Regions from separate parts of the Homo sapiens genome. Here region 1 is linked to region 2. Evidence: fine-mapped expression QTL. Tissue or cell type: whole blood. Region 2 holds a variant in brackets; the other region holds the start of a gene. All regions are shown on one strand. Distances are between the middles of the regions.

The links. PIP is the estimated chance that this variant, and not a neighbour inherited with it, causes the effect.
Region 1: it holds the start of DBN1, and the variant in region 2 is fine-mapped to the expression of DBN1 in whole blood (GTEx, PIP 0.90).

The regions. Positions count from the first base shown.
Region 1 is chr5:177,471,864-177,475,991 of GRCh38, reverse strand. DBN1 (drebrin 1) reads left to right here and starts at 2,358. Exons shown (of 15, transcript NM_001363541.2): 1 at 2,358-2,556. The coding sequence starts at 2,471. RefSeq lists silencers at 2,121-2,170, 2,181-2,560, 2,641-2,840, 2,871-3,240, 3,160-3,346 and enhancers at 2,495-2,996, 2,997-3,500.
Region 2 is chr5:176,849,240-176,853,504 of GRCh38, reverse strand. All of the region lies in intron 1 of UNC5A (unc-5 netrin receptor A), which reads right to left. Among named protein-coding and RNA genes, the nearest start is that of UNC5A, 41 kb to the right of the region's middle. The variant G/A (reference allele first, on the strand shown) is at 2,573.

The DNA of each region.
Region 1 (4,128 bases), 620 kb before region 2:
TCCCGCTGTGTGTAGGGGGAGCTCATGCTCTGGGGGTGGGAGAGACCGACCTGTCAGTGACTTGAAGGGTGATCGGTTTGGGGGTGGCAGACACGAAGTCCTGGTAGGAGGAACCCACCAGCCTCCCACCCACCAAGGCTGAGTGTGTGGGCTTCAGGGGCAACAGCAGCTGAAAGGAGGCAGGTTCTCAGAGGACAGTGACCAGTGGCCACCCACTCCCACCAGTCAGGGCAACTGAGAACTATGGGTCCACTGAGTTTGGCAAGTTAGGGGTTACTGGTGACCTTGGCCAGAGCAGTGCCAGAGAAAATGCGGGGAGGAGGAGACAGAGGACAGATGTCTGTCTGCATCCTATAGAAATGAGGGGATGAAGATAACCTGGAAGGGTGACGGGTGCGGAGACCAGGGGAGTGGGCTCTAGGGCATGCCAGCAGGGAACACCCTTGCTTCCCTGAAAATAGGGAAAACTGAGTGCAGGGTGTATGGGAACTCTCTATACTATCTTTGTAACTTTTCTGTAAATCTAACACTGTTCTAAAATAGAAAGTTTATTTAAAAATGTTGATGGCAAGAGGTGAGAGTGGGCGTGGCTGGAGAGTTTGTAGGTGGCTGGTGGGGAGGCAGGAATTTGAGGAAGGAAGAGCTTAGATGCATTTAGGGCTTCTGTTTTTTGGATGCAAAATTGAGTGTGCAGGAGGCTGGGGGGTGAGGGGAGCGGGGGGGGCGAGGAGCTGTGAGCTAGGACAAATCAAAGGAAGCTGGAAGAGGCTGAGGCCACAGATGCTCATGGCCAGCCATCTGCTGCCCCTCCCCGGCTGCAGGGTCTCCCTCCTCACCAGAATCAGGCTCTTCATGCCTAAGGGTGGGGGATGGCTGAAGCTCTGTCCCTCCATGGCTCTCCCCACTTCCCTTCCCCACCATGTGTCACCCACTCCCTTAGGGATCCCCATGGCAGGCCAACCACACCTACTGGCCAGTTGGTCTAGGGCACAGGGCCTGGCTGTGTCCCTGCCTGGGTGCCTCACTCTAGTGGTGGCCATGGAGAAATTGCCATGGCCTGTGGTCCCTAGACATAGTGGGCACTGACTTCCCAAGGCAGGGGCCTGTGAGTATTTTGAGTTTTAAGAGGGTTCTCCCAACTCCAAAGCGCCAGGAACACTGCCACATAGGCAGCCCTGCTCTCCTTCTCTTGGCATAGCCAATTACCCAACGCAGAACTCGGAGGCCTGGCTAGAACCACCTCCTCCTCCGCGGTGCGGTTGGGACCAGGTGAAGTTTGCTCAGGGAGGTCGAGGTTGGAGGCTTTGTAGTGGTGGAAAAGGCTTCTAAGCGCTGTGGACGGTTTCAGGGTCCCAACCTAGCAAGGAACGGAGTTCTGGAAGGCCCTGGCATGGTGTCCACTCCCTTGCAGGGGGTACTTTTCTGAGGCCCCCTCCCGTTCTGTGCTTAGAGCTTTAGGAGATAAAGGTGCCAAGAGGCTGGCCCTGAGCGTCCTTGGAGGAGCCCTGCCGTGGGAGTCTGGGGTTAGATGCTGCTTCCGGAACTCTACTTGGGACTCCTCTGGGAGGCGTGAGGCTTGAGAGAGAATGCAAAGGATCTCCTAGCTGGCCCCATCTGAGAGGGCACAGGCGTGGAGGGGAGGAGAGGCCTGGAATGGAGGGATAATGAGCTGGGTAGGGGCTGAGAATGGCCTGGAATAAGTGGTCATGGAGCCGAGATGGGGGGCTGTGGTTGGGAATTGGGAACTGGGATCAGGATGAGACTGGGATGGGTTGGACTGAAGATGTGCCGTGACACATGTTGGGGGGGACACGTGCTAAGCATGGGGCTGAAGCTGGGATGGGAAAGCAACTGGGGTGGATTTGAGGGTGGGATGCAGATGACAGTGGATATGATGGGATAGACTAGGCAAGGACCTCTCAGGGAAAGGAGACGGGCCAGGGGTGGGGTGTTGTGTGAGCTGGGTTGGGATGAAAATGGGTTTAACATGAGGTGGGACGCACCAGGAATGGAGATCAATGAAGCAATGGGTGGGGCGGAACCGGATTGGGACGGGGGGTGGGCGGGGGGAGGTGGGGACGGGACTGGGTTCGGGGCTGGAAGGAGGGCTAGCGCCGAGGTTACGGACGGGGCAGGTGAGGGTTCGGGACGTGGGTGGGGCTGGCCCTGGAGCGGCGCGCAGGGGCGGTGGGTGAGGGGCGCCCGGGGCAGGCCGGGAAGGGGGGGCGGGCCTCCCCCTGGGCCGGGCCGGGGCGGCGCTAGGACCGAGCGAGCGGAGGGAGCGAGCCGGGCGGAGCCAGCGCCCCCCGCCCCCCGCCGGCCGGCTCCCCTCCCCCGGCCGCTGGCTCGCTCGGCTCGCGACGCTGCAGAGGCTCCGAGGCGGCGGCGGCGACTCCCTCTTTCCCTCCCTCCTCCTCCGTCCGCCCGTCCGTCCGCGCGTCTGTCCGTTCGGCCCGGTCCGGCCCGAAGCATGGCCGGCGTCAGCTTCAGCGGCCACCGCCTGGAGCTGCTGGCGGCTTACGAGGAGGTGATCCGAGAGGAGAGCGCGGCCGACTGGTGAGCCCCCCGCCCCCGCCCCCGGCCCCTTTGTCCCCGCGCCGCCGCCGCGCCTTTGTTTCTCTCCCGCCCCGCCGCCCCGCCGCCGGGAAGGGAGGGGGACCCCGAAATGGTGCAGCGGGCCGGGAGGGCCGGGAGGGGCTGCCTTTGTGCGCGCCGGGGGAGGGGCCGGCGGGCCAGGCGGGGCACTGCCGGGCCCCGAGCGCCCGGAGGCGGCCCAAGGCGCGCGGTGGGAGCGGCGGCCGGACGCGGCCCGGAGGCGCGGGGTCCCGATGTGGGGCCCGGGGCCGCGTGGCCCTGCGGGAGCCCATCCCCCACCCTACCCCCCGGGCCCGGGGGACAGGTGTGCACGGGGCGGCCAAGGGCACCTTCGCCACCTTCGAGCGGGCGAGGTCCGGGCGGGGACGGGGCGGGGACCGAGCTAGCGGAGCCAGCGCAGCCTGCCCGGCTCAGCCCGGCCCGGCCACAGCACAAAGGAAAGCGAGGGCGGGGGAGGAGCGGAGCGGGCTGGGGGCCGGGCGCCCCGCCCACCGGGGGGCCTCTCGGAGTGGGCCGCCCTCCCCCCGAAACCTGGGCTGGAGTGAGGTGGAAGGATGTTTGCTGCCACATGGCGACCGCGAAGTGACTCCCTTACCGCCGCGGGTCGCGGAGGAGGCAGGGGTGAGCTCTCCTCCCCTACCTGAAGGGGACTGCGGGGACTAGGCAGCTGGGCTGGGGGGCACCGAGCTGCCTAAGGGGCCAGCTGAGATCCCTGGGAGGAAGCCCTCTGGAGAACAAGTGTGGAGGGAGCCCCCAAAGACGGCTGAAGGGGTGAACAGATCCACCGGCCCCCAGCAAGGGGCACTCGGTCCCTGATGGGGGAGGAGCTGGGCCGCCCCTCACCCCGCCCCCCAGCTGTTGTCTCCCGCTGAGCTGGGGGAGGGGATGGACCACCTGCTCTGGGGCTGGCGGCCCAGGGTGGTGGAAAAAGGAAACCGAGGGGTTCCTCACAGCCCCATCCTGGAATCCTTTAACCCCCCCGTAATACTCTTCTTCTAGGGAAGGTGCCCATCTGGTTCCTAGGCCTCCTCTCCCTGCTGGCAGATGGGAACAGGTTCTTCTTGAGGAAACTGAGGCAAAGAGGAGGGCAGGTCTGAGGGACCCCGCTTGGGCTGGCCTCACCCGCACACTGGGAGGGCAGCCAGGTGGGGACTCTGACCTGGGGGCTTCTGGAGGAGAGGATGAGATGGCTGGGCATCCATGGCATGGTACTGCAGCACTGGCCAGCAGCCAGGCCTGGAGGGATGGACGCGAGAGACAAGCTCTCGTGTCCTGCAGGTCAGTCACAGGAGAGGCCGGCACAGGCTCAGCAGGCAGGCGGCCCACCCATTGTCCCAGCCCTGCCCCAGGGGGGCTGAGATCATGGGAGGAGCTCTGGGCAAGTGGCCGGCTTGGCCTGGTGAAGGAGCTGGCTTTGGGATAAGGCCCCGCCTGGGGAGAAGCACAGCTCACCCCAGAACACCTCCTTTGCCCTCCAGCCTGGAGGGGTGTTGTCTACCAACACCCCATTTTCTCCTAAAAGCAGAGCTCTGG
Region 2 (4,265 bases):
GCTCCAGGGGCCTGGTCACAAGGACGGACACAGGAGTCACGAGGAGGACATGCAGACAGGCTGAACCACAAAGAACAAAGGGGCAGGGCGGGGGCGGCACCGCTCCCATCTCAGAGGATGACTACTCTGGGCAGGGGCACCGCTGGTCCCTTGCCCGCCAGCTCCTGCAGACCAGGCCTGTCCTCCGCCCCGGCCACTGCTCACAGGCTCCTTCTTCCTGCCTCTGGTTGTACAGACAAGGAACGTGAGGCTCAGGCCTTTCCTAAGGTGGTACAACCCACCAAGGACTTTAGCCAAATGGCCGGGGCCAGGAGTGGGGCAGGGCTCCTGTATCTGTTCTCAAATGCTCTGCACTCACCCCACTGCAGGGCCTTTGCACTTGTCGTGCCCGCACACGCTGCCTCCGATCTTCCCACAGCTGCCTGCTCTAACCCGTCCCATCTCTGCTCCCGCGGAGTCACTGTCACCGAGGACCTGGCCTGTGTGAAGGAGCTCTTCCTCTCCCTCCCCTTTCCCAGTCTGTTTTCCTCCTCACGCCTGCCACCACCTGAGGTCATCTTGTTTGTGTACTTGGTTACTCTTCCGTAAAACATGTCACAACAGCAGGACCACATCTGTCTTGCCACCGGTCCCAGCACCAGGCACAGGGCCTAGCACTGGGCAGGAGCTGAGCCAAGATGTCGCAAACGCAGAGTGAACTGGCTTGGGCCTTCCCACACTTAGTGTGACACTGTTGCCATCGCTAAGTACCTGAACCCACCGCAAAGGGAACTCAGAAACTCCCGGGGGGAGTGCTGTGATGGGGGGACGGGCTCCTATGGCCCCAACCAAGGGCCCCTTCCTGCTGAGGGGCCTCGCCTCAGGCCAGAGAAATAGTTAATAAAGCTGAGGTCTAAATAAGCATTTGATTAACAAATGATAAAATAGCTATTGTGTCCCTGAATTAAGCTGTAATTGTGGCTGATAATTGGCTGGTTAGAACTTAATAAGCTGCAATTAAATAGAATGGAATCCAGGGTAATTATGTGGTCACACGGCCCAGGGAAAACTGGGGAAGGAAGGCGCTTTCCTGCCTTGGGATCCTTGGCCGGCGCCTGTGCTTTGGTAGCTGTAGTGTGTGTGTGTGTGTGCTTCTGTGTGTGGGGTGTGTATGTGTTTCTGTGTGTGTTTCTGTGTGTGATATGTGTGTGTTTCTGTGTGGTGTATGTAGTGTTTCTGTGTGGTGTATGTGTGTTTCTGTGTGTGTGGTGTGTGTGAGTGTGTGTGAGCCTCCCTCACCTCTCACCTGGCAGAGGCAGGTGGCCGGCCCAGCTGCCTCACAAGCAGTAGGGGCGGTAGGCAGGCTCTGAGCCCTGGCAAGGCCTGTGGCAGCCCCGGCTGAGAGAGACATAAAGAATTCCTGGCACAGCTCCCCAAAAGGCGAGAGGCCAAGAGAGGGTAGCCGGCAGGGCGCTGGGAACACGACAGAGGCAGGCAGGTGGGTAGGGTCCTTCTGTCTTCCTAATGAGGAAATGAGTTCAGAGACGGGATGACTAGCTCAAGGACACACAGCGACCATGGCAGAGCCGGGGCAGATCACCCGACTGCCCACGGATGGAGGTAACTCTACTTAGAGTAGCTCTGGGGGCACCCTCCCCATTTCCATCCGGGTTCTTCCCCAGGCACACGCACCATAAGGCCGAGTAAGGACAGTGCACCTGTTCCACAGTTGCCCCTCAAGACAGGCCAGCTGGAAAGTCAGGAGCTGCCCCAACTAGGAGTGCCACTCTGCAGCCCCTCCTGACAGTACATTCTTCCCCTGCCTCCTGCCCCCATGCTCCCCTCCCCTCTCCGGGGGCCACCCGAGGGGGGTGCACAGAGCTCCCTCAGAGGCTGCAGCCCGCCATGGCCAGCCCCGCCCCCAGCCCAGGTGTGGCCCCGGCGCGGGGATGATGAACAGCGTGGCCTACACCATTTATGGCCCCGTCAGCATTTTTACAATGTTGCTGGCAATTAATTTAATTAAAGACCCTGTCCCACATATGGCGGCATTTCATATCTCACTGGTTTAATGTGTGCCCCGCCAGAGCTGGGGCCGGGGTGGTCCAGGAGTGGCAGCAGCTCAGGTTGTGCAAGGTGGGGACCAGAGCCCAGAGGCACTTGGGAGGTTACACAGTCGCCTGCCCTTGGCTGGTGGGAGACACTGCCCACAACCACAGCCGTCACGGCACCCACACAGTCACAGCAACGACAGCCATGGTGAACTTGACAGGATGTTATTTAACCCTCACAACAATTCTAAGAGGCAAGGAACTAATTTGAATTACCAATGAAGAAACTGAGGCATGGAGAGGCACAGTAAGTCGAGAGCGATGGGTTCCTGCCCAGGCAGGCTGGCTACAGTGCCCCGGGCTCTCAACCAGGAGCATGCATCTGGCAACATGTCCTGGCACCGTGCTAGGCACCGGCCAACACAGCCCAAGAGGGACCCACGTCCATGCCCCCATGGGGTGGCCCAGGGACCCCAGCCCCACTGGGAAGTCCTGGGAGCACTGGGAAGTCCTGGGAGCACTGGAAAGTCCTGGGAGCACTG[G/A]GAAGTCCTGGGAGCACAGCCTCCAGAATCATGCCTGCTGCAGCCCGGTCCATTAGCATTTGTGGGCACATACACCACTGCCCACACTAGGATGGTGACTGAGGCCACAGGCCACCAGCCAATCTTTGATTCCCATTCTCAGCAGATGAGCCCGCTTGGACCCCTCCTCATACAATGGCCCACAGGAAAACCCAGTAACCTAGGGACAAACCCAGCTCCCACTCATGGGTCCCACCAGCCCAGGGCGACAGCAGAGGCCAGCACATGCAGCCACTCCTTGAAGCTGCAAACGGCTTCCCGGGCTCGGCTCTCCTGAGGCCCCGCTTCTGTGGCCCCCATCAGCTCCTGCCCCGGGGTCCCTAGCCAGGCTCCCCGCCCACCCTCGCTGCCTGCGCCATCCCGACTCTCCTTCTGCCTCTTGCAGTCAGCAGGGCCCCCACCTCCCAGGAAGCCTCCCTCCTTTCCTCCCTCGTGGCCACCTAACTCATCCAGCCTCCACCCCCGGCCCCACCACCCAAAGTGTGCCTTCCCTTGGCTACCTCCTAGCTCAGTGCCGTCCTCAACCTCGCTATTTCTAGAAAGAGAATCCGATCTCACACTTCAAACCCCTGCAATGGTTCCCATACAACTAACACAGCAGTCCCATCCCTGGTCACCAACCCATACCCTGCAGTCAGCTCAGCCAGGTGCATGTATTAAAGTTAGGGCTCACACCCCGACTTCCTCCTAAACCTGCAGGGCACCCCACCTACTACCAATGCACTCAGCCCTGTTCATTCAAAATTAAAGATGTTGCCTCCTCTGGGCTGGTGTGGCAGGGACTGGGGGACGTGGGGCTGCATGGCTTGCTCCTCGGCCTCCCATGATCCTGCTGACGCAGGGCTGGCTGTGCAGGCACCTGCCTCCGCTGTCAGCCTGTGCACCCTCCAGTGCACACAGCAGGTGGGAGCCAACTCTTCTCAGCAGTGTCCAGCTCAGGGGCTGGCAAGTCGGGGGCCAGTGATGGTGGCAGAGTTGAAATGTCTCCTCAACTTGCCACAAGCTCCAAGAGTGGGCAGTAGGGTGTCATCTCTGTCCCTGCTGGCAACTGGCCCAGGGTATGTACTTGCTGGGGGCTGGGGCACAGCCCTCAGTTGGGCATCAGGAGGTTGAGTCCCCAGCCCCCACTCTGCCTCCACCTGGCCACGTGGCCTTGGGCAAGCCACTTCCCTCTCTGGACCTCAGGAGATGTAGGACTGAGTGAGAGGTGGCAAGTTCAGTGCCTTCAGGGGCTGGGTGGGGCTGGGAAAAGTGGACAGTGACAGTGTCCATCCAAGGGGGCAGGCCAGATGAGAGGTGCACCATTTTTTTAATTTTTTGAGACGCAGTTGCCCAGGCTGGAGAGCAATGGCGTGATCTTGGCTCACTGCAACCTCCACTTCCCTGGTTGAAGGGATTTTCCTGCCTCAGCCTCCCAAGTAGCTGGGATTATGGGTGCATGCCACAACACCCAGGTAATTTTTGTATTTTTAGTAGAGACGGGGTTTCACCATGTTGGCCAGGCTGGTCTTGAACTCCTGACCTCAGGTGATCCACCTGCCTTGGCCTCCCAAAGTGCTGGGATTACAGGCGTGAGCCACTGCGCCCAGCCTGCACTGATTTTTTTTTCCCCAAGGGAAGCTGGAAATCTATTTTTATGTGAAACCTCCCATTT